Linked DNA regions of Homo sapiens: region 1 is linked to region 2. The links come from fine-mapping of genetic effects on gene expression. A gene starts in region 2. The other region holds a variant in brackets. All regions are shown on one strand. Distances are from middle to middle.

Region 1 (11,809 bases), 26 kb before region 2:
CTAGAGTGCAGTGGCGCAATCTCAGCTCACTGCAACCTCCACCTCCCGGGTTCAACCGATTCTCCTGCCTCAGCCTCCCGAGTAGCTGGGATTACAGGCACCCACCACCGCACCTGGCTAATTTTTTTGTATTTTTAGTAGAGACAGGGTTTCACCCCGTTGGCCACGCTGGTCTCGAACTCCTGACCTTGTGATCCACCTGCCTCAGCCTCCCAAAGTGCTGGGATTACAGGCATGAGCCACCATGCCCGGCCGCAGTGGAGATTCTATGTGCCAAGGGCTGCCTGTCCCAGTGCCTGGCAGTGGCTTCCTGCATTCAGAGAGTGGCATGTGCTCTCCTTTCTGACTGTGCTCTGTCCATTTCCTCTGATAGTTCTACAGTGTCAGCCGGTTGCCTACAAGGAGCTTATCGGACAATATCTGTGCAGTCTGTGGGCAGAAGATCATTGTGGAGCTTGATGAAGAAGGGCTCATTGAAAACACCTACCAGCTTTCCTGTAATCATGTGTATCCTTTTCAAAGGAAATTGTTTGGGCTTCATCAAGCCTCCTTCTTTCCTCCTTCTCCTCCTCCTCCTCCTGTCCCCATCTCCTCCATCTTGCTTACCTTCCATGCCCAAACCCCAGTCCTTTATCCTCCAGCCCAGTCGAGTCTTCCTGTTTGTCCCTGCTGAATAATGAACTGCTAATTAAGGTGAACCTCCTCCTCCAGTAATTTCCTTTCTAAAGAGGACTGTTAATGCCACATAGACAGGAAGGCAGTATCTGAGCAGGGTGCTGGCAGGGGAAATTGGTTGAAGTCATAAGTGAGCAGATAGCCAACAAAGATCAGGGAAAGAAGGGGTTTGGAGGTGAGAAAAAGAGTGAAGTATCAGGTGCAGGGGGGAACTTAAGACTATCCAAGTGGAGCCCAAGGTCTGAATCTTAGCAGATCAAGAAATACAAAGAGTGCTTTGCCTAGAAATAATCCTAGGAACCTACCTGTGGCAACAGTAGTCTTGGGGGCAGCCAAGGGAGGAAACCAAGCCTTCTTCTCAGCTTCAGTCTTTAGAAGAAGATACAGCCACAGGCAGCAAGACACCTTGGATTACAAAAGCAGGGACCAAAATTTGGACATTTGTTCTTGGACCATGGGCTCCTCCACCAATGGGTTCTATCCCAAATAGCTATCCATTGGCTGAGGGATCTTCATATGATAGGTACCAGACAGCCTGAGCCTGGAAACCAGCATTCTATGTGAACTCCAGTAACCATTAAGGAAAGCCTCAATGTGCTGAAAAATGCTGGCATCGAGACCCCTGAACAAATCAACCTGTGTTGCCTGAACATGTATGGACACTACTTTTGCTATGGATACCAAAGTTAGGCTTAGGTTGGCCAATCATCAGTATTTTAATTCTTCCTAAATACAAAAAAGGGTATCATTTATCTTTATTTTATAGTACAGTATCAATTTAATAATGTCATCGCTATGTACCCAGTTAGTTCAAAGCTCTGGCATTATGAGATGGTTAAACCATCTGTCTTTTGCCTAAAGCCCACTTAATTTAGTCAGTCATACCTCGGTGTCCAGTACCTATGATTCAATTCTGTTTAATCTGGACAGTTTCCACTTATTCAATCCTGAAAGTAAAACCAGGACCAAATGCATCTCAAAAGTAATAGGAGCCTTTACTCCAATACATAAGCCTTAAAATCTTAAGGGAAGAAACACAAAGATACCCCATATGGATTTCTGTAGTGGTTTTTTCAGTGTGATACCTTTCCCAAAAAACTCATTCTTTGTAGCAATTTTCCAAGTCTGGCCCTAGTTTTAAATATGATTTATTTTTCAAATGTTGGAACAGAGCCCCTTCTGCCATTTGCAAATGGAAATGTTTTCTCTCTCCACCTTTAAAAGCCCTTAGGGATTGTTGTACATGTGTGCATATATAATCTAAAATGTAGTCACCTTTAAATTTGCTTTTCAGGGAGTATTATTAATGGCCCATTTTAGCATGAGTCATATTAGTGAGAAATGGGCAAATATGAGTCATATTAACAAGGATGGGTTATCTGAGTCTTGCTCTGCAGAAGTTCTGCCAGTGTGCAAGTTTTTCAGCATTGAGATTTTGAAAATGAAAAAGAACATTAGAGAGAATGTGGACATTTCTGTGCTGACTCAATGGCCCCTGAATTCTATACCTCTGTAGAAGATGGGGCTGTATTCCAGCCCTTTTGAATGAAAGGCTGTTTGAGTTTTGGTTCAAAATCTTCGTTATAATACACCACTTTATTTTAAAGCATATTGCAAAAATGACCCCAATTCCAAGAACATAAAATAATGGAAACTCCTGGTTACATTGAAATTTAATACTGAGGAGTTATATACATGGCCTTGACTTGCTACACCTCCAAGCTCCTCCATTTGTTAGGGAGGGAACTTCTACATCGTTGCTGTTCACCTGGGTGTGTAGCAGGCCAGTCAGAAGATCATGTGATCTTGGCCCAGAAAGTCACATTGGGAGCAGCGATTGTAGAAATAAACAAATCAGTAGGATGGATTTCATTATAGTTCATTTTGCCCAAATCCATAGTATCAGGGAACATGGAAATATATATTCCCAAAAATAATCAGTTTTGAAAGAGTCATTCAAATGTTCATTCAATAAATATTTCTTAGGCATGGCTTAAGGTGCTGAGGACACTGAAATGAATGAGACATAGTCCTACAGGTAACACATGGTCTAGGAGAAACATGTAAGTACCAAAAGTCCTGCTACACTAGAGTAAGTCCCTGGTGCTGTGAGAACACATAGGGTTCACTCAAGTTTGGGGACAAAGGGTCAGACTTTCTGGACCAGGAGACGTATACAAATGGATCTGTAAATGCCTAGAGTTTGAGAAGTTAAGTTTAGTAGGTATATATTCTATTAAAAATAATTGGCTCCTTATCAGTACTTTTAAAAGTCAAGAAAAAAAATTATGAAGTTAATGGAAATATTTGTAACTTTATGACCACAAATAATTTTAACTTGTCTAAGTGCCTAAGACAAGTCTGATTACATGAAGCTAAAGAATAATGCACAAAAAGTAGAACAGAGAAATGCTACGGTAAATGCCTGAGAAACGCACAATAACAAGGTGGGGAAATATAACAATACACTTATGGAAGACATCACTGTAAAGGAAAAAAAAAAAAAAGGACTCATATTCTTTATCTAATCTAATTCTTACCAGAATCAAGTGAGGCAAGAAGGCCAAGAAGCTAAGTAAATTCCTCAGGGTCATAAAGCGAAGGCAGCTGTGACTCCAGGCTCACTGTCATTGTCAGGTCCCTTACAGAACCTCCCGAAAAAAGCGATGTGCCTCATCAAGTCATGACTCCACCACTAGACCCTGAAGATGGGACCATTCCATGCCATCATGAACCAGACATTGCCTTTTCATATCTAGAAGCCTCCCTAACAAGATGCTTCAGCTTTCATGAATTCTGCATCCGAGGTTGGTGTATCGTTGGGAAAAAGCAGACTTGCCCTTACTGCAAAGAGAAAGTTGATTTGAAGAGGATGATCAGTAATCCATATCCTTTAAAACAAAAAGGTTATAAGAGATTATCTTGAATGTTTCTGGGGATATATTCTTCAATGAAAAGTTTCAGTGTTTTTGTATAGTTCCAGCAGAAAATTTTTTGTTTTCCCTAACCACCTATTTCAAAATGACTTATGGTCTCTTTTCTCCTCTGTGCCTATATTACTATTCTGGTTAGAAAGTTAAATGCCAGAAAACATTCCACTCTTTATGTTCTATATTTTCCACATTAAGGGCTGTAGTGGAAATGTGATGAGACACTGCAAAAAATAGGTAAAATATATGGAAGAATATTCAGGATGGATGGATGGATGAATAAATGAGTGAACTGGATGGGTGGGTAGATAGGTGCATAAATAGAAAAATTGGAATTGAAATTTTAAAAGCCGAAATGTGAACTAGAGTACAGAAAACTATTTTTAAAATATGTTAGGGTGTACCAAATTTTATTATTCCCAGAAATGAGTAGGTATTTCCCCGTCTGGATTTTGGCTTTTTAAATTCCATGCCATGCATCATCTCTTCTTAGGCCAAACACTAGTGATAACAATATTGAAAATAAATAAAGATTTACAGAGTTGATCAGCTTCTGGCAGCCACTGAGATTTGTATAGACATCAGAGGTGTGCAACAGAATAAATTCAAGTCACATTAAGGTCGCAGGAAGGTAATGGCCCCCATCAGGAGCTAACTAGAAAGACTTTGTCTTCAACCTCACTATCTCAAGACCATAGTATATCTCATTCAGGAAGCAGGGTGGGAATGGAATTAAAACATATCCTCCCTTAAGCAGAAGAGTCCTGAAAGGTTGGCATCAACCTGCCAAGTACCATCTCTTCTCTAAGAGACAGCCTTTCTGTACTTTCTAAGTAATAGCTAAATTTTACAATGCTAAAGGAATCACCTTCCTTGCTTCCTGCTCCCCTGTTCCTCACCAACCCTATACGTATGGTTTAACAATGGCTACTGGCAGCAATGCCCTCATCTCTGGGCACTGCAGATCAGGGAGGGATTCAAGGAGGGCATCAGAGAAGGAGGCAACATCAGTGGATCTTTGGGTCTCAAGGCCCATACCATTGCAAGAGACCACCCTCTGCAGTGCCCACTCCATCCACAGACCTGGCCTTTCTCGGTGAGTCAGTGCCACTCAAGCCCAACTCAAGGCTAAAAGTGTGTGATGATCCTTCCACCTTCCTGTTCATCCACTGTCCTGGAATTCCTCTTCTAAAATGAGGATACCAAGTCCAGAACAGTTTTTGGTTATTAACCTATAAAACCTCAATGCATAAATCTTTGTTATAAAATTGGTGATAATATGATCATAAATGTCACCTCAAGTGATACTTTAACAAAGGGTCATTCATTTCTTTATGTAGTCTTGAGAAAATAAACTGTTGAATAAAACATATACTACTCTTTTATTGAGACTCAATATAAGAAAAAACTACATGTGAAAAAGCTGTCATTTTGTTTGTAAAATTGTTGTCGGAGACACTATGCATTCATTAAGCTCCCTAGCACAGTTTATCAAAGACAGCAGAAAAAGGTCTCTCTTATCTGATGAACCAGTGTTATTCTTTGTAATATACAATGGGTTCATTCTAATGTATGACTACAGGAAAGCCCAGAGCTGTTTTTGCTCATTTAGAGCAGTTTCCACTATCCTTGGTTTTCCAATATAGTCATTCCCCTCTTCTTCCTTCTTTTAGCATATACCCTTGCCTTTGATTCTTGTTTTCTAGTTTGGGATTTTATTGTAAAGAACTTCAATTTATTTTCAGGAATTGGGTGTGGTGTAAGTAACAATGACAACCATAATGCTATAAAACTCACATAAGGGGCTTTTAATTGAGCACATAGAATTAACAAGAAAGGAAATACCCATTCATTACATTGTTTATTATATTTGCAAATGACATTTATGAATATTTCTGCTACTTGGCTGTATATAGAACAACCTCCTTAACTGAGATTTAGCTGGGAGCGCACACATTTTCTGTATGGACAAATCCTGGATTGGCTTCGTTATTTGGTGGCCTGGCAACCTGTGGTGAT[A/G]GGAATAGTTCAAGGCATTATCTATTCACTAGGGCTGGAATAGGACAGCAGACCCCAGAAGCAACATACTGCATGGTTGAAATCCTTGGTCCAACATTTAATATTAATTTTTTTAATTTTAGAGATGATCCCAAGTGTTTAGAAAACTAAGTAAACTTTGTTGTCAAGCAATTTGTCCATGTGGAAAGAATTTAAAGAGAAGCTGAACAATGGAATAAACAAATAAAGCATGTTTTTTCATCTTTCCCATTACAGCTGTTTCTTAACTCATGCACATGTCACATTTGTTACACTGCACTGTGGACATTCTACTTCCAGTTTGACTGATAACAATATCTGTAAAGTGTTTCAGAGGTTTGCAAAGTACTTCTCACACACAACATTTAGCCATAGCTAATACTTTCTCATCAGTTCAACATCTTTAAAGTAGGTGGAGTCGTTAAGTAATCTATGGTCAAGGACATTGTGCTTGTCTTCTGCTCCATGTGCTTGTTACCATGTGGCAGCTTCTGCACCACAGAGCTCTTCTGTAGAAAGTGGGTTACTCCCAAAGCCTCTGGCAGCAGGTGCCACACCTTCTCAATGGGCCACAGGTACTTTGGGTTTCCTGGAGCTGCCAAAAGTGCTCAAACCCATGCAACAGCTGTACTAAAGCAAGAAGAATCACTTTTCTTTTGTTCCACTCTGCGTGCGCGTGCACACATACACGTGCACAGTCATTCCATTGTGGCACTCTGCTTTTATTTTCTTCATAGTACTTCTCAATACCCGAAATCCTATCATAAATTTATTGTCTTCTCCTCCATGAAGACAAGGAATTTTATGTTTTGTTCCCTACCATATCCCCTGCACTTTGAGCACTGCCTAGCACATAAGAGGCACTCAAAAAATATTTGCTGAAAGAGTAAATTAATCTGGCAGAAGGGAACAAAATTAACTGAATAGAGAAGACCAGTCAGAAAGAATTAACCCATGAATGATATGTTGGACTCTCAAAATTAATTTGTTTTGAATTACTGGTCATTTTTAAAATAGTCAACACTGTATACATTTAACACCAGACATCTACTCTGCAATACTTGAAGCCATTACAATTGTATGAAGTAGAAAGGAAATACAATGATTATTTTCCTTGTTCAGATATTGGCACTATACTTAATGCTATTCAAAGGTCCATCATTAAGATAACTCACACTACAATTTCTTACTGTTGAGAACTTTCCTCTTTCAAACTGCCCAATGCTTCAGTATTATTGAAATAGGTCAGGGTCCATTGTCTCATTGTCTAAGGTGTTATTTGAACTTATTGTGTCATGACTGAGAAAATTAAGGAGCATGAATGCAAAGGGTGAGGTTGGAGCAAAAGTTTAGTAAGTGAAAGAAGAAAGCTCTCCACAGTGGAGAGGAGAGCCCAAGTGGGGTGCCATTTTACAGCTGAATGCAAAAGCTTTTATAAGAAACTCCTCTCATCTCTGTAGCTGTTTGAGTAACTTCTCTTATTTGAAAACCTGTCTGCACAACTCCACCTACCTATACAGCTGTGAGATGTCTCTAGGTAAGCACAAAGCATAGTTTTTTCTTGTTTGAGTAATTGTGGGTTTCTTTTAGGTAAACCCCCTCTGTTTCCAGTGCAATCTCCCATGGATCCCCCCGTGTTCATATCTGAAAAGGGGAGAAAACATTTTCCTGGGAGCCTGCTAATCACACAAAGAACAAAAGGCTTCTGTGCTGGACCTTGCCTGCTTATCTGTGCAGGTACAGTCTGAGTTTTCCCCAGGCTGCTCTATTTTTGCCTGTAGCTGTGATTTTCCAGGCAGACTGCTTCTCTGAAGACTAGCCTTAGCTGTCTACCGAACTGATTTTTCATTTTCTCCTCTCTCATTATGATTGATTCAGCATCCAGATTATAGAATTTTTAATTGCTTATTTCTCTACTCTGAAAACATCCCAATAATTCAATACTTACTATATAGTAGGCATGTTCAAGGGGTAGGGAGATAAAACAAGATTCTTGAGCTTATAGTCTATTGACAAATAAAAGACTTCACATTTGGATAAAGCACTAACAAAAAATTAGTTTTTCTCCTGTTAAACAAAAAAAAGAACCCTTAAACTGATCTCTAATTTAGTTCCCACTTATCTTTTATGTATAGCCACAATGGCAGCTTTCAGAACCATTTAGAACTCTCGGCAAATAAGCCAGTATTTATCTGAATGGGATTCACAATGACCCTCAGAGTTCAGGAATGTCAGATAATCACTAAACAGCCTCAGAAAAAAATGAAGATGCCATTTTCTTTATAAAATTTAAGTATTTACAATCTAATCCCAATTTTGTAAAGTAGTGTGTATATGTACACTGAAAAAAGATTGGAGAGTATTATGGCTAATACTAGGTGTCAACTTGATTGGATTGAAAGATGCCTGGATAGCTGGTAAAGTATAGTTTCTGGTGTGTATGTGAGGGTGTTGCCAGAGGAGATTAACATTTGAGTCAGTGGACTAGGAAAGGAAGATCCACCTTTAATGTGAATAGGCACCACAACACCTCAGGTGATCCTCCCACCTCAGCCTCCCAAAGTGCTGGGATTACAGGCATAAGCCACCACGTCCGTCCTAAAGATTATTTTTTAAATATTATTTTAAATCTATCAATTATCTATGAAGCTATTTCAGTTGCTATTTTAAGTTCTTGAAATTAAACATAGATCGAGTCAATGTTAAATCTACCTTGTTCTCATAATTAACATGGAAACAGAGAAGTAAAGCAGAAAGTCCATTACTGTATTTGGTGTCTGTGGAATCTCAAGTTTCCTTCCTCTAAACTTGTTTTTCGTTTGTTTTGTTTCATTTTGTTTTTTTGAGACAGTGTCTTCCTCTGTCACCCAGGCTGGAGTGCAGTGGTGCAATCACAGCTCACTGCAGCCTGGACCTCCCGGGCTCAGGTGATCCTCCCACCTCAGCATCCCGAGTAGCTAGGACCAGAGGCACATGCCACCATGCCCTGCTAATATTTTGTATTTTTTGGTAGAGACAGGGTTTTGCCATGTTTCCCAGGCTGGTCTCCAACTCCTGGACTCAAGCAATCCTCCTGCCTTAGCCTCCCAAAGTGCTGGGATTACACCAAGCCTGATTTTTTTTAAGGCTGGCTACCGTTTCCTCCATAACACTCTTCTGGGAGGTCGTGTGAAACAGCAGCAGCCCTATGCGAGTTCCCCAAGGACAAGCTTGTTCTGCAGTTAATGAGCATATATTTCTTTGTGGTATTTTTCTGCAAACAGCAGGATCCCTTATATCCCTGCTAGTATCCATAACAGAAAAATATCCACTTACAAGCCATAATATATAAGGGAATGAAATATCTTCTTGGAAAATAATAATAATAGCTAACATCTACTACAGACATCACCCTCACCCCACACACGAACCCATAGTGCCCATTCTCTTAGGCGTGGTACTCTTGCCCTCAACACCCCTCCAGAGAAAATGGGAATCAAGGAGCTTAGGCTCATGGTTTACTTACATTCCTACATTTCATACTCTCAGTATCTTAGGATATAGAGATCATCATCCCTATTTTAAAGACAGAAAAACTTTTTGGGTCATGTCAACTGACTTGCCAAAGATTACACATCTACTAACCCAGGTCTTTCTGACTCTAGTGCCCAATTAACCACATACACCCAGTTCTGGTTGAGAATTGAGCAGGGGTCAAAGGCTCACTTCCTTTCACATGGTTCCCAGCTTAAGAAAGTTACATAGAATCAGCAAATAGTGCTTACCAAAGAAAGTTGCATCAAAATTTAATGTGTGGTATTATTATACCTAGATTGCAAAATTAACATATGGTAGTAGTATCTACCTTTAAATTACTGTGTATCAAACTATTTTTGAGTCATTATGAGGAAACTCTAGGTATATATTTGCTTAAAAATCTATTTAGCTCACATGTACTTTTTAAAATATTCAGAAGGGGAAAAAGGGCAGGCTTTTTTAGAATTAAAAACAAGACTTTTCGAAGAAGGAAAAAGCAACAAGATGCAGGAGATATAGGCTAAAAAACAGGAACTGAGAGTCAGAGTGATTGGACAATAACTAGAACTCAAAAGGTAGTTAGAGGCTGAGGAAGACCAGAGTCCGGATGTGGGAAGTGTCTTTCAAATTCTCCTAAACTGAGTATTTATTTTGTTAAATTACAGAAATACATAATTTACTGTACCTTGCACTGTGTACTCACTCTCTCAAGTAACTATGGCTGGAGAAACCTATCTAATAGCCAGAAAGACAGATCCAGATCACATGAAAATACACCCTCTAGTATTTCTCATCCTGTAAAGTTTAATAGGAAATACACAGCACTTTTTTCTAGGAATAGCAACAAGTTTTGGGGAGTGCCCCAAATACTTTGCCTTGTTGCTCTTGAGATCAGCTGCACAGAGAAGTGACAGCTAGGTAGGACAGAGAATGCCTTTTGTGGCCACAGAGGAGTCTCTTAGCAGGAAGAAAGAATGACACAGTCATTGAGAATCTTAAGTTCATTTGTGCTGTTTCCTAATGAACTAAGCCAGTTGCTACAGATTACAGTTGGCCCTCTATATCCATGGGTTCTGCATCCATGAAGTCAACCAACTGTGGATCAAAAGTATGTTTTAAAAATTTTGAAAATAAAAAATAACAATAATAATATAAATAAAAAGACAGTACAACTATTTACATAGTATTTACATTGTATTGGGTATCATAAGTAATCTAGAGATGATTTAAAGTATACAGGAGAATGTACACAGGTTATATGCAAATACTATGCCACTCTTATAAGGGACTTGATCATCTATGAATTTTGATATCCACGAGGATCCTGCAACCAATTCCCTTGGATACCAAGGGACTATATTCAGATATCAGTAATAGACTTATGATCATGGTTATCTCATAGAAAAAAGAAAAACCAAAAACCAATTTTTAAATCTGGCATATGTTTATAAAACAGCACCCCAGACAAAATTTGAAGTTTTGTAGTTTTAGTAAGCAAGTCCTCAAATGACGGTACATCCACGTAGTTTTTATATAATTATGTCTGAATGAACTTAACTATAACTAGTGACATAAAGATCCCAACTAGACAAAGACTGGTCTTAAATATGGGAACCTAGGACTTTATCGCAGCTCTCAGATTTACCCAAAATCCTTCCCGCTGAGCCTCGTCCATGGGCCACTCCAGGTAGGTCTTGGTGTTCATTATCTTCCGCAGCTTGCAGAAGCGCTGGGGAATGGCTTTTTTCTCAATGGGCTCCAGAAGAATGAGAATGGCAGCATCATTGTTCTCATCAAAAAGACGGAAATGGGAGAAGTCCAGTTCATACTTGCACCACTCACTCTTCACAAAGTTTTCAGAAAGCACAAAGACAGTTTTGTGGCTCTTTTCAATGGAGTCAATGATATTGTCAATGATCCACTTGCCAGGAATGAAGTCCCGCTTATGAAGACACAACTTGAAGGGGGGATTGAAGTTCTCCAGCTCCTGGACCATAAGGTTCTCCACCCAGTAGGCATCCCGCTCACTGTAAGAAACAAATGCATCATAGCAGATGTTCCTGCTGGGAGCTTTCCTGGGCTTCCTTTTGGCCTGGAGCCAGGCCCACATCATTTTCATATACCACAGGCCATGGAAACGGTGGCACAGGACCCCCGTGAGCAGGATCAGCAGGAACAGAGCACAGCACATGCCAGACACCAGTGCTGTCCTGTGACATTCCGACACCGAGAGGCGGACATCCTGAACCTGCTGGCCACGCACATGGGATGGAGAGTCACACAGGTAATTTGCTGGCCAATCAATCAAGACTTTGGCCAGTGCTTGCTGCTCCTGAGTGAAGGAGAGGAATTCACAGGAGCAAATGAAGTTATTGCCACCAGCTTCCAAAGTCTTCAGTGTGTGAAATGAGTCAAGTTGCTCCTTAGAAAACGTAGTTATTGCATTCCTACTGATTTTCAATACTAGTAACATGGGTAAGAGGGAGGCATCTGGTAGAGTCATCAACTTATTTCTGGAAATATAAAGTTCTTTGAGTTGCGGCAAATTCAAAGAAAATAAATTGAGATTGTTGTTGCTAACATCTAAAATTTCCAGTGTCTTGGGAATGCAGCCTGTTACACTGTGTATTCGTGTGCTGGATAAGTTCAAA
Region 2 (11,809 bases):
GGGAAATAGGTAAAATAATAACTTGGGGTAGAGGTTATGCTTGTGTTTCTCCAGGCCAGAATCAATAGCTGATTTGGATACCATCAAGACACCTGAAACCTTATCATGAGCCAGATGCCAAGGAAGAGATTCTGGGAGGATCCCGAGGACCCTCTGGTTGCAGCCATGTCGAGACTGATGCTGAGGAGGACCCAAACTATCACGAGCAACAACCATCAAACACAGCCATCTACCTGGGGACAGATCAAGAAACTGCCATAGAGGGTGGAAGAAAACCTGAGGAAAGTGGGACAACCAGTCACAATGAGTAATTTAATGATAGCTATGATAGCAGTGATCACCATTGCCATTAGTATTCCTTCAACAAGGGCTAACACAGAGAACAATTATACTTATTGGGCATATTTATCAATCTTGGCTGGCAATAATGCCTGGATGTAATCATTCTATGACACAGTTACACATGCTTTCTGATCTCAGTATTTACCATAATAAATCTGTTTCTATAATTGAGGCATATTGCCCTCAAAAACCTATTTGTAAACAGAATTGGACCTGGCCAGAAATAATGAACATACTTGTTTGGGAAGATTGCATTGCAGAATAGGCAGAGGTGCTGCGCAGTGATTCCTATGGAATCATTATTGATTGGTCCCCTAAGGGGATGTTTAGCTTAAATTGCACCTCTCAGTCTGCGTGCCATGGCCACACTATGTTTAGCTGGTCTAAACAAAATGGTCAGATGGTAGAAATAGCAAGAAATATGGCAAGAGTTCCTATTATCTGGAAACATGATGGTATAGTGGCACCTCACCCTCAAATGATATGGCCCGCTGTAGGAGCTAAACATAAGGATTTGTGGAAACTATTAATGGCTCTTAAATAAGACCAAATTCAGGAAAGAATAAAAAAGCACCTAGAAGACACTCTACAAACTTGTCTTTCCATATTGCAATATTAAAAGAACAAATATTTAAAGCATTCCAGGCACACCAGACCTTAATGCCAGGAACTGGAGTGCTTGAAGGAGCTGCAGACAGATTAGCAGTGATTAACCCATTAAAATAGATAAAGACACTTGGAAGCTCTGTGATTTCAATGATGGTTGTGCTTTTAATCTGTGTTGTTTGTCTTTGTATAGTATGCATATGCGAATCCCGACTCCTGCAAGAAGTAGCTCACTGTGACAAAGCTGCCTTTGCTTTTATTGCTTTGCAAAACAAAAAAGGGGGACATGTGGGAACAGGCTCCCAAACCTGGCCATAAACTAGCCCCAGATTTGGCCATAAACAAAATCTCTGCAGCACTGTGACATGTTTGTGACAGCCATGACGCCCACGCTGAAGGTTGTGGGTTTACTGGAATGAGGGCAAGGAACACCTGGCCCACCCAGGGCAGAAAACCGCTTAACGTGTTCCTAAGCCACAACAATAGCATGAGCAATCTGTGCCTTAAGGACGTGTTCCTGCTGCAGACATCTAGCCAGAGCCTATCCCTTTGTTTCGGCCCATCCCTTTGTTTCCTGTAAGGAATACTTTTAGTTAATCTATAATCTATAGCGATAATGCTTATCACTGGCTTGCTGTCAGTAAATATGTGGGTAAATCTCTGTTAGGGGCTCTCAGCTCTGAAGGCTGTGAGTCCCCTGATTTCCCACTCCACACTCTACATTTCTGTGTGTGTGTCTTTGATTCCTCTAGCGCTGCTGGGTTAGGGTCTCCACGACCGAGCTGGTCTCAGCAGTCCATTGTAATTCTAAGTTACCTTTAGTAAGGCTCACACATTTCTCTAGAAAAGCACAGGTTCTTGGTCCATAATTCTTATAAATGAAATCGGCTGGAGTTGCAGATGGAGTTGTAGACTCCTTAAATCCAGATAAGCCCAGGATTCCCTGTCTTCTAGTAACCTTATCTACTTGAGGCCTCCTAGAGCACCAGTCCAGTTTCAGTTTCTTCACTGAATCCAATCCAATTCTGGAGCCAATCCATCAAAGAATTGCTCAAATAAAGTCAGAGAGCTGAAAATGCAAATGTATAGTGCTCAAGTCTGAGCAGGAACTTACCCACAACTACCAGTTGAAAGCAGTGAAAGAGCAATGGGCACAATGAGCCCCACAGGTACCTTCACTTGGTCACTAAGAGCTCCTGGGAGTCACTATAGGTCTCCTTTGGATCCTGCTTGCAACACCAAACACTGTTAAAAGAGAAACTTCAGACAAATTAAATTTGACAGAGTTTATTTTAGCAAAGAATGATTCATGAATCAGGCAGCACTCAGATTCACAAAAGTTTCAGAGAGCATCCAACAGTGTGAGCAGTGAGCTTTTATAGGCCAAACACAAGAGCATAGTAATCACCTGATTGGCTTCAGCTAGGAGTCTGCCTTATTTGGGTATGGTGTAATAGGCATTTACCTTGTTTGGGCATAGTCTGATCAGTTGGCTGCCTGTGATTGGCTAAAGCTTGGCTATTTATGATTTGGTGGAAATTTAGCTATTAATTACAAAAAAAAAGCTCCTAAGTTAGGTTTCAGTTTGTTTATGTAGTATACTAAATTAGGTTGCAGTTTATTATGTAAGAACTCAAAGTGTAGAGACAGTCTCAGGATAATGGCCTCCTGCTTATGTCATTTAACAAAAGAGAGGTCCTCAATTTTATTCCTTAGATGAGTTATTTGTACCAGCTTTTATTGTCTTGCCAGAGGTTCATCATTTTTATTAGCATTTTCAAAAAATCAACTTCTGACTTGATAGATCCCCTATTTTCTAGCACATTAATTTCTATTCTTATATTATTATTTCCCCTGTTCTGATTTCTCTGGATTTATTTTACTATTCCTTTTCCAGTTTTTAAGGTATTTGCTTGCTCATTCATTTTTCGTCACTCTTCATTTCTAATATATGCACTTAAGGTTGTAAGTTTCCTTTAAGCAACAGTTTAGGTGCATCTGACAAGTTTTTATATGTAATTTTTTTCATAAGTCATTAAAAATATTTTCTGATTTTCATTCTGATTATTTTTTGACCCATGGGTTATTTAGAAATTTACTAATTTCCAAATATATGAGAATTTTCTATAAGTTTTTCTGTTCTTTTCTACTTTAATTGCATTATGGTCAGAAGACATATTCTGTATGATTTAAATTCTTTAAAATGTATTGCAATTTACTCTATGAGCCAGTATATGGTCAGATTTTAAGTATGCTCTGTGATTTCAGCTGCTGTTGGAAGTAGTATAGGTTCCTTATGTGAACTACATTGTGTTCGCATTTTCTTTATCCTTATTGATTTTTGTCTGGTTTTTCTATCAGTTACTGAGAGATGTATGATAAAATCTCCCACTATGATTGTGGATTTTTCTATGAATTTTCTATTTTTCTAGTTCAGTCAATTTGGCTCTATTCTTTTTCTATTTTCTAGTTTCTTAATGTTGTTATAAGTACTTATAAATTCAAAATTTTTATTTCTTCTCAGTGAAACCTTTAACTTAGTGAAACGTTTATCTACAGTTATGATTTTTTTCCTAATTCTATTTTGTCTAATAGTAATATTGCCACAACAGCTTTCTTTTGATAAATGGTTGCATCTGTTCACTTTATACCTTTTAGTATCCATAAATGTGTCTCTTGTAAACAGCATATGATTGTTGGGTTGTTTTGAAGTCTAGTCTGATAATATTAGTCTGATTATCATAAAATTTAGTCTATCTCATTTAGTTACTGATGTATTAAATTGCATTTAATATAATTACTGACATTTTGGGCTTTAAAGTAATTGAACTATTGCTATGGTTTGAATGTGTGCCCCAAAGCTCATGTATTGGAAATTTCATCTTCAATGCAACAGTGTTGAGAGGTGGAATTTTTGTTTGTTTGTTTGTTTTGAGACAGAGTCTCGCTCTGTCACCCAGGCTGGAGTGCAGTGGCATGATCTCGGCTCACTGCGAGCTGAGAGGTGGAACCTTTTAAGAGGTGATTAGGTTATGAAGGCTGTACCCTCATAAATGGATTAATGTTATCACCAAGGGAGCAGTTTATTGTGAGAATGAGTTTGTTATAAAAGTAAGTTCTGTCCTCTCTTGCTCTCTCTCACCATGTGATGCTTTCCATCATGTTATAATGTAGCCAGATGACCCTCACCAGATGCAGCCCTTCAATCTTGGACTTCCCAGACTCCAGAACCATGAATGGATAAATTTCTGTTCTTTGTAAATTACCCAGTCTCAGGTATTTTGTTACAGCAGCACCCAAGGGACTGTGACAACTATGTACTTTATTCTTGTCCCATTTGTTTTATGTTCTATTGTCTCTCTTTTCTTGCCCTCTTTTAAATTTGGGGGTATTCCATTAGATTTTTTCTACTCTGTTAGTTTATCAATAAAACTGTACCCCAAAAAATTAACTGATAGCTTAGAAACCCCCAAAACATGCTGTCAACTTCTGGCAGTTTTTGTAAATGTAAAATGGGTACATTATAAAGAACTTAAAGATGTTCCTTGCTTAGAACAGGAAGAACCTTTAAAATATTGGTGAATAAATCATTTTCCAATAGTTTCTGCTCTTGCTTTTGTTGTTTGTTTGTTTTGTTTTGTGTTTTGTTGTTTGTTTGGTCTGTCCCTTCAAGTCAGGCCACCATAGCTACAGTTGCTCTTTGGTAAAAATCTTAATAACAGAGTCAAAAGATTAAAGTCATCTCAGCAAACTTTGAGTTGTCTACACCCAGATTACTCTCCTTCTCTTTCTCCGCCCCCACCCACCACTTCCAATCACCTCTTTCTCTCTCTTTCTCTCTCTTTCAAACAGGAAAAAGACTTTCCTGGCTTGCATTTAAGTTCTAAACACAAGTTCATATTTATAGAAGTTGAAGAAGTTGTAAAGGGCACTTCAAAGCATTCTTACTTGAAGGACTCGACTTTGCTTAAACGCTGTAAGTTGTTTTCTAATCAGAGACCTAACTCACACATCCTAAGAATGAAGGAACGCAGAGGTGGGGCGAAGCCTGCCAGGGAGCAGAGGTCAGACTTGGGTTAGGGAGCCAGGGTCCTGGACAGACCCAGAGCACGGAACCTTTCCCACCTCTGAGCCACGGTGACCAAAATCCAAGCTCCGTCCTAGCAGTAACCAGTGAGCGAGGACACACCCCCTGCCAGACGCTAGCTCGTTGAAAGCCTTTACCCAATCTTTGTCATCCGAGCCAAGAGGGGCCAGGAGGCGGGGAGAGCGACCCTACCGGGAATCAGGGAAGCGGGAGGGCCAGGCCGTGAGGGAAGCGGGAGGGCCGGGCCGGGGCCACCGCCCCCCTCGGCCTCCCGAGGGAGGTGGCGGCCAGAGGCCCGGAGCCCCAGCGGAAGCTCTCCGCGGCAACCCCCCCGGGGCCTGCAAGGTTGGAAGGGCGCTCAGCCCAGCCGCAGCCCATTGGCACTGCACGCGCGGGGTCCCGACCTCGGGCTCTGCAGGACCCTCGGGCTCCCTTTCCGTGTAGCCCCTGCTTCTCCCGAGGGCCGACCTGAGCCGGCTTCGCTGGTGTCCACATTCCCGCGCTGGGCCGTGCAAAGAAGCACCGGCGTCCCGGGGGCCTGGTGCGCTTCCCGCTATCCCCGCCCGGACAGGAGCTAGGGGCCCAGGTGCAGCCGAACGGGAGCCCGGGTTCCCCAGAGCCCGTGACCGGGCTGCGGCTCCCCTCCGCCCCTGCCCGACCCGACCCCAGGAAGGGGTGCAGAGAGACCACACGAGTGGGGAGCGCACGACGTACCTGGGAGAACTCCGAGCAGTCACCTGAGAGAACGCCGAGCAGCCGCCTGGCTGCGCTTTCTCGCTGCCTCCGAGCCGGCCTGCCCGGGACTAGGAAGTAAGCAAAAGGGAAAGTCCGCGCGGCCGGGCGCCCCCTCCTTCTGGGGTGCGGGAACCGCCCCTTCCACGGGGCACGTGCGCCGCTGCGCAGCCGGAGGGAACTCTGGACCTCGCGCTGAGTTCCAGGCAGGTGGCCCCGAGCGAGCCCCCGCGGCCGTGCTTCCCAGCAGGCTCCCGCCCTTGACCGTGAGCTAGGCTGCGACAGGCCAGAGGCGGGTCCTGCCCCGACAGCTGCCCCGTGCAAGGCTGGGTCGAAGAAGAGAGCTGGGGGCTTGGCGGAGGTTCCAGGTCAGAGAAAAGCGAATCGAGACGCTAGAGGCGGCCTGCGTGGGATTGGCAACCACAGGGAAAGCTAAGTGCCCAACCAGTATTTTCTTGAAGCTTCGGGCATCCAGGACCTCACATCACCTGAAACACACCGTCTTTAAATTCCACTCCTGATGCTTTTCCATCCATGGAAGCCCGAACTCAGGCTCATGAATCGTGCTTCTCCTTTCCCCACTTTTCCACACTCTATTCACCTGCCAGTACATCTCCAGGGTCCGCTTCCACCCAAAAGTCTATGCCCTCCTGCATTAAAATAGGTTCACCCTCCAGACTAACACAGAACGATTTTGCCTAAGGGAGCAGATAAGGACAGCCCCGGATTTTTTTCCCCAATCCAGTGACAGTCCCTACTGGTGCACCATCTCTAGCACCTACATTCCATCCCACTTCTCACCATGCAAAGATTTGGGCTTCCCACTTCTGTCTACAGTTTGAAGCTAAGCCCTTCCCTTGCCCCTATTCCATCCCTACTTCCCAAAGTAATACCAAAAACAGTCATTGATCAATTTTCTTCATTGCCACAGAACCTAGCTGTCTCCACGGTTAGGAATATGTATAAGGGAAGAAAACAAGCTTTTAAAATTCAACTGCCTTAATGTTAATAATCTACCTTTTATGTTCATAATTACATTTGATTTTCACAAAGTGAGATATGAAGCAGAGCAAGCATCCTTGTTCCTCCCTTACACAAGAAAATGTCATGTGAATTGTATAACATATGACAGAACTGAGATTTGAAACCAGAATTTTACCTTAAATCCAGGGCTGTTTCTCCTACCCTGTTCCACATCCCTAATCCTCTCTGATGGTTGGAACATCAGGGAAACTTAATCAATAGACCTAAATATGAAATTGAGAGGTTTTTGTATACAGGTCACTATCTTACTATTTTTCTTTATCCTGACCATCAGGTTGTCCAGCTGGCTGAAAATGCTTTCTTATTAATTCCAAATCTCCAGCTCTCTACCTTGTGATTTCTGACAAAAGAAAACTTCCTTCAAATTATTTCTCCTGAAACTAAAAACTTGTTTTTTCTCTATTTCTCTTCCCTAGTTGAACTGCCTAAGGTGGATTTTGATGCTATTGCTCTATAATCCCAAAGTCAATTAGAATTGTCTGGCAAAGTCAGATAGAAATCATTTATTTAGCCACAAATCAGTGTCCTCTGCATATATTGAAGGTAGTTGTACACTGTCCACAAAGCTATTAGCACGTCCAATTCAGACACAGTCCTTATACTTGTTCAGTTCTTGACATTTTCTTTTTTTTTTTTTTTTTTTCTGAGATGGAGTCTCGTTTTGTCACCCAGGCTGGAGTGCAGTGGTGCAATCTCATCTCACTGCAGTCTCCACCTCCCAGATTCAAGCAATTCTCTGCCTCAGCCTCCCAAGTAGGTGGGATTACAGGTGCGTGCCACCACGCCTGGCTAATTTTTGTATTTTTGGTAGAGACAGGGTTTTGCTATGTTGACCAGGCTGGTCTTGAACTCCTGGCACCAAGTGATCCACCAGCCTAGGCCTCCCAAAGTGCTGGGATTACAGGTGTGAGCCACAGCACCCGGCCTAGTTCTTGACATTTTTGAAGCACCTTCACATCTAGAATTTCATCTGAATCTTACAATAACACATGCAATAAATAATTCTGATATTACTATTCCTTTGGTTAAAGTGATTAGGGAACTTGCCCAGAGTCGCATGGCTCACAGTTAACATGTGGCAAATCCCAGGTTAGACTCCAAGTCTCCTTCTGTATCTAGATATAAGACCTCCTATAACTCTCTACCAAAAAAAAGAAAAATGTTGATTAAAGTTAGAAAATCAACACGGCATATGAAATGTACTAATATTTGGGGAAAGGGTAACTTTCATTGTATATATTCATAGTTTTGAGCATCTAACTGAAATCCTAAGCTGTTATCTGAAAGTTATCCGAAAACACAAGGCCAGCGTGGTGGTTCACACCTGTAATCCCGGCACTTTGGGAGCCCAAGACAGGAGGATCTTGAGTCCAGGAGTTTGAGACCAGCCTGGGCAAAACAGGGAGACCCCCATCTCTACAAAAATTCAAAAATTAGCCAGGCATGATGGTTTGTAGCTGTAACCCCAGCTACTCAGGAGGCTGAGGTTGGAGGATCGTTTGAGTCCAGTGTGTTGAGGCTGGGAGATAAGAGTGAGACTCTGTTTCGAAAAAACAAAACAAAACACACAGTCTATGTCTTTTTCACATAAAGTATATTGTAATTGTCAGATGAAATAATAAGAAACTCATCCACCGAAAACCACTTAATGAAAATATGCCATAAATCCTGCATTATTTTACAGATCTTTATACATGAACATACATTCTTCAAAATTTTTTTACTCTGCACAGATGTCCGTATGTCCGTAATTTTTTAAGACATTTCAAAAATATTGCCTATGCAAAATAATAGTAGTAAACTTCTAAGTTAACATAGAACCAAGTTCTGAAAACAGAATATTTCATGTTGTATATATTTCCCTTTTAAAAACTAGGAGTTTTTTTTTTTTTTTTTTTTTGTGGGCTCCTGCGGGCCAGGGGACTGAGGCAAGCACCTTGGAGCTGAGCCATAGAAATCAGATCAAAAAGTGTGTTGGAATGAGTAGATGGACAGAATGAATTATGGGGAAGAGGGAACTGCACTCTTCAAAGGTCCCAGCCAGAAGTGGGGCTGGGGGCTGGGGGCAGGGGAAGGGAGCAGGAGGCATGATGACTCCCAAGCTCATTTTTCTTTTTTTTGATATGTTTTATTTATTATTATTATACTTTAAGTTCTAGGGTACATGTGCACAACGTGCAGGTTAGTTACATATGTATACATGTGCCATGTTGGTGTGCTGCACCCATTAACTCGTCATTCACATTAGGTATTTCTCCTAATGCTACCCCTCCCCCAGCCCCCCACCCCACGTTAGGCCCTGGTGTGTGATGTTCCCCACCCTGTGTCCAGGTGGGAATTGTTCAATTCCCACCTATGAGTGAGAACATGCAGTGTTTGGTTTTTTGTCCTTGTGATAGTTTGCTCATAATGATGGTTTCCAGCTTCATCCATGTCCCTACAAAGGACATGAACTCATCCTTTTTTATGGCTGCATAGTATTCCATGGTGTATATGTGCCACATTTTCTTAATCCAGTCTATCATTGATGGACGTTTGGGTTGGTTCCAAGTCTTTGTTATTGTGAATAGTACCGCAATAAACATACGTGTGCATGTGTCTTTATAGTAGCATGATTTATAATCCTTTGGGTATATACCCAGTAATGGGATGGCTGGGTCAAATGGTATTTCTAGTTCTAGATCCTTGAGGAATCACCACTGTCTTCCACAATGGTCGAACTAAAAACTAGGAGTTTTCTTTAACTAAAACCCTTCCCGCTGAGCTTCATTAGTGGCCACTCCAGGCAGGTCTAGGTGTTAATTATCTTCTGCAGCTTAACAGAAATGCTGGGGAATGATCCTAGCCATAGACTGAAGGCCTGTGTCCTCCTGAAATTCATCTGTTGAAATCCTAACCCCCAATGTGAGGTACTGGAGGTGGGCCCTTTGATGAGTGATTAGGTCATGGGGGCAGAAGCTTCATGAATGGGATTAGTTCCCTTCCAAAAGAAACTTCAGAGAGTTCCCTCACCCCTTCCACCACCAAGAACACAGTGAGAAGACAGCTATCTTTGAGCCTGGAAGAGTTCCTCACCAGATACCAAATCTGCCAACACCTTGATCTTGGACTTCCCAGCCTCTAGATCTGTGAGAAATGAATTTCTCTTATCTATAAACTACCCAGTCTATTGGCATTTTTGCTATAGCAGCCCAGATTGACTAAGGCAAATGGCTTCTTAATGGGCTCCAGAAGAATGAGAATGGCAGCATCACTGTTCTCATCAAAAAGACGGAAATGGGAGAAGTCCAGTTCCTTCTTGCACCACTCACTCTTCACAAAGTTTTCAGAAAGCACAAAGACAGTTTTGTGTCTCTTTTCAATGGAGTCAATGATATTGTCAATGATCCACTTGCCAGGAATGAAGTCCCACTTATGAAGACACAACTTGAAGAGGGGATTGAAGTTCTCCAGCTCCTGGACCATAAGGTTCTCCACCCAGTAGGCATCCTGCTCACTATAAGAAACAAATGCGTCATAGCAGATGTCCCTGCTGCAAGCTTTCCTGTGCTTCCTTTTGGCCTAGAGCCAGGCCCACATCATTTTCATGTACCACGGGCTGTGGAAACAGTGGCACAGAACCCCCATGGGCAGGATCAGCAGGAACAGGGCACAGCACATGCCAGACACCAGTGCCACCCTGTGGCACTCCGACACCAAAAGGCAGACGTCCTGAACCTGTTGGCCACACACGTGGGATGGAGAGTCACACAGGTAGTTTGCTGGCCAACCGATAAGAACTTTGGCCAGTGCTTGCTGCTCCTGAGTGAAGGAGAGGAATTCACAGGAGCAAATGAAGTTGTTGCCACCAGCTTCCAAAGTCTTCAGTGTGTGAAAAGAGTCAAGTTGCCCTTTAGAGAAAGTTTTCTTTTCCTGCTTCTTCTCAAAGGGGAAGAAAGCATCTGGTAGGGTCTTCAACACATATCTGAAAATGTAAAGTTATTTAAATTGCAGCTAAATAAAAGTTTACAAGGCTCACTTCTAGTAAGCCTCGTGTCTGGGAAACAATTGGTTAAATTGTGAATTTTTGTGTTAGATAAGTTCAAGTATTCTTCCCTTTCTGACCATTGATAAGTGATATGTAAAGAACCAAGTATATGCTGACCAAGATCAAGGTTAGTCAGTTTTTCTAGAGTTAAGCAGCATTTTCCAGAACTTGCAGATTATTTAGCATGAAATTCAAGGTGTATAGGGAGCTTCAGGCTTCCTTATGGACTGAATACTTCAATTATTCTTCAAACATCAATTTTTCACTGAGATCTAAGAATCCTGATGATTTTGAATGTTGCAACAGAGGATATGCTATTAAGCAGATCTTGACACTTTCAACCTGAAGATCTTTAGTCAATACAAAAGTAGAAGCATGTCTTTAAAATTTTGTCATCATTGAAAATTCCTGTAGCTGAGCTCTGTTTTATTACAGTTTCTATTGGACGTGGTCTTTTCGTGGGATCTCAGCCATCTCATCTTCCATTTTCCTGAACTACATAGGCTTCCAGCTTTACCTCCAACAAGTGATTTGCAAATGCTCTCATTTGATTGCTTCAGCTTATCTTAATATTAGTTTTTTCACAATGAGCCTGACTATAAGGTCCTTTTTTCTTCCTTTTATCTCATATGAAGAACAGTGTTTCCCGCTTCCAAATACTTTTAGAAACTTGAAAGATCAAACAAAACGTCTCAGAGTAAAGTTGACTGCTTCATATGTCAGCTCAAGTGACTGATCTACATTTATTTCAGGCTTTTTAGTTCATATCTCTGGGGATTGGAAACATAAATTTTAAATTAGTTCAGAACAGAAAGTTGGTAAAATATCCTGTTGTTTTTAATTTAGAGAACTTATATATATTTCATGAATTTAAATTTGGGAAAATGGAAAAAGAGAGAAGGAAACATTTCCTCAAGTCTCTGTTGGACTATCCCAGAAGTAAAGAGTCAGACTGTGAGGATGATAGACAA

What was found.
Region 1: its variant is fine-mapped to the expression of TLR2 in cerebellar hemisphere (GTEx, PIP above 0.99).

The regions. Positions count from the first base shown.
Region 1 is chr4:153,704,227-153,716,035 of GRCh38, reverse strand. TLR2 (toll like receptor 2) reads right to left here. Exons shown (of 3, transcript NM_001318789.2): 3 at 9,776-11,809. The coding sequence ends at 10,774. It overlaps RNF175 (ring finger protein 175), which reads left to right. Exons shown (of 9, transcript NM_173662.4): 7 at 374-507; 8 at 3,460-3,561; 9 at 5,547-5,876. The coding sequence ends at 5,667. Among named protein-coding and RNA genes, the nearest start is that of TLR2, 26 kb to the right of the region's middle. The variant A/G (reference allele first, on the strand shown) is at 5,625.
Region 2 is chr4:153,678,301-153,690,109 of GRCh38, reverse strand. TLR2 (toll like receptor 2) reads right to left here and starts at 5,830. Exons shown (of 3, transcript NM_001318789.2): 1 at 5,750-5,830; 2 at 2,063-2,208. It also overlaps the pseudogene LOC100419170. RefSeq lists silencers at 5,563-5,652, 5,933-6,112.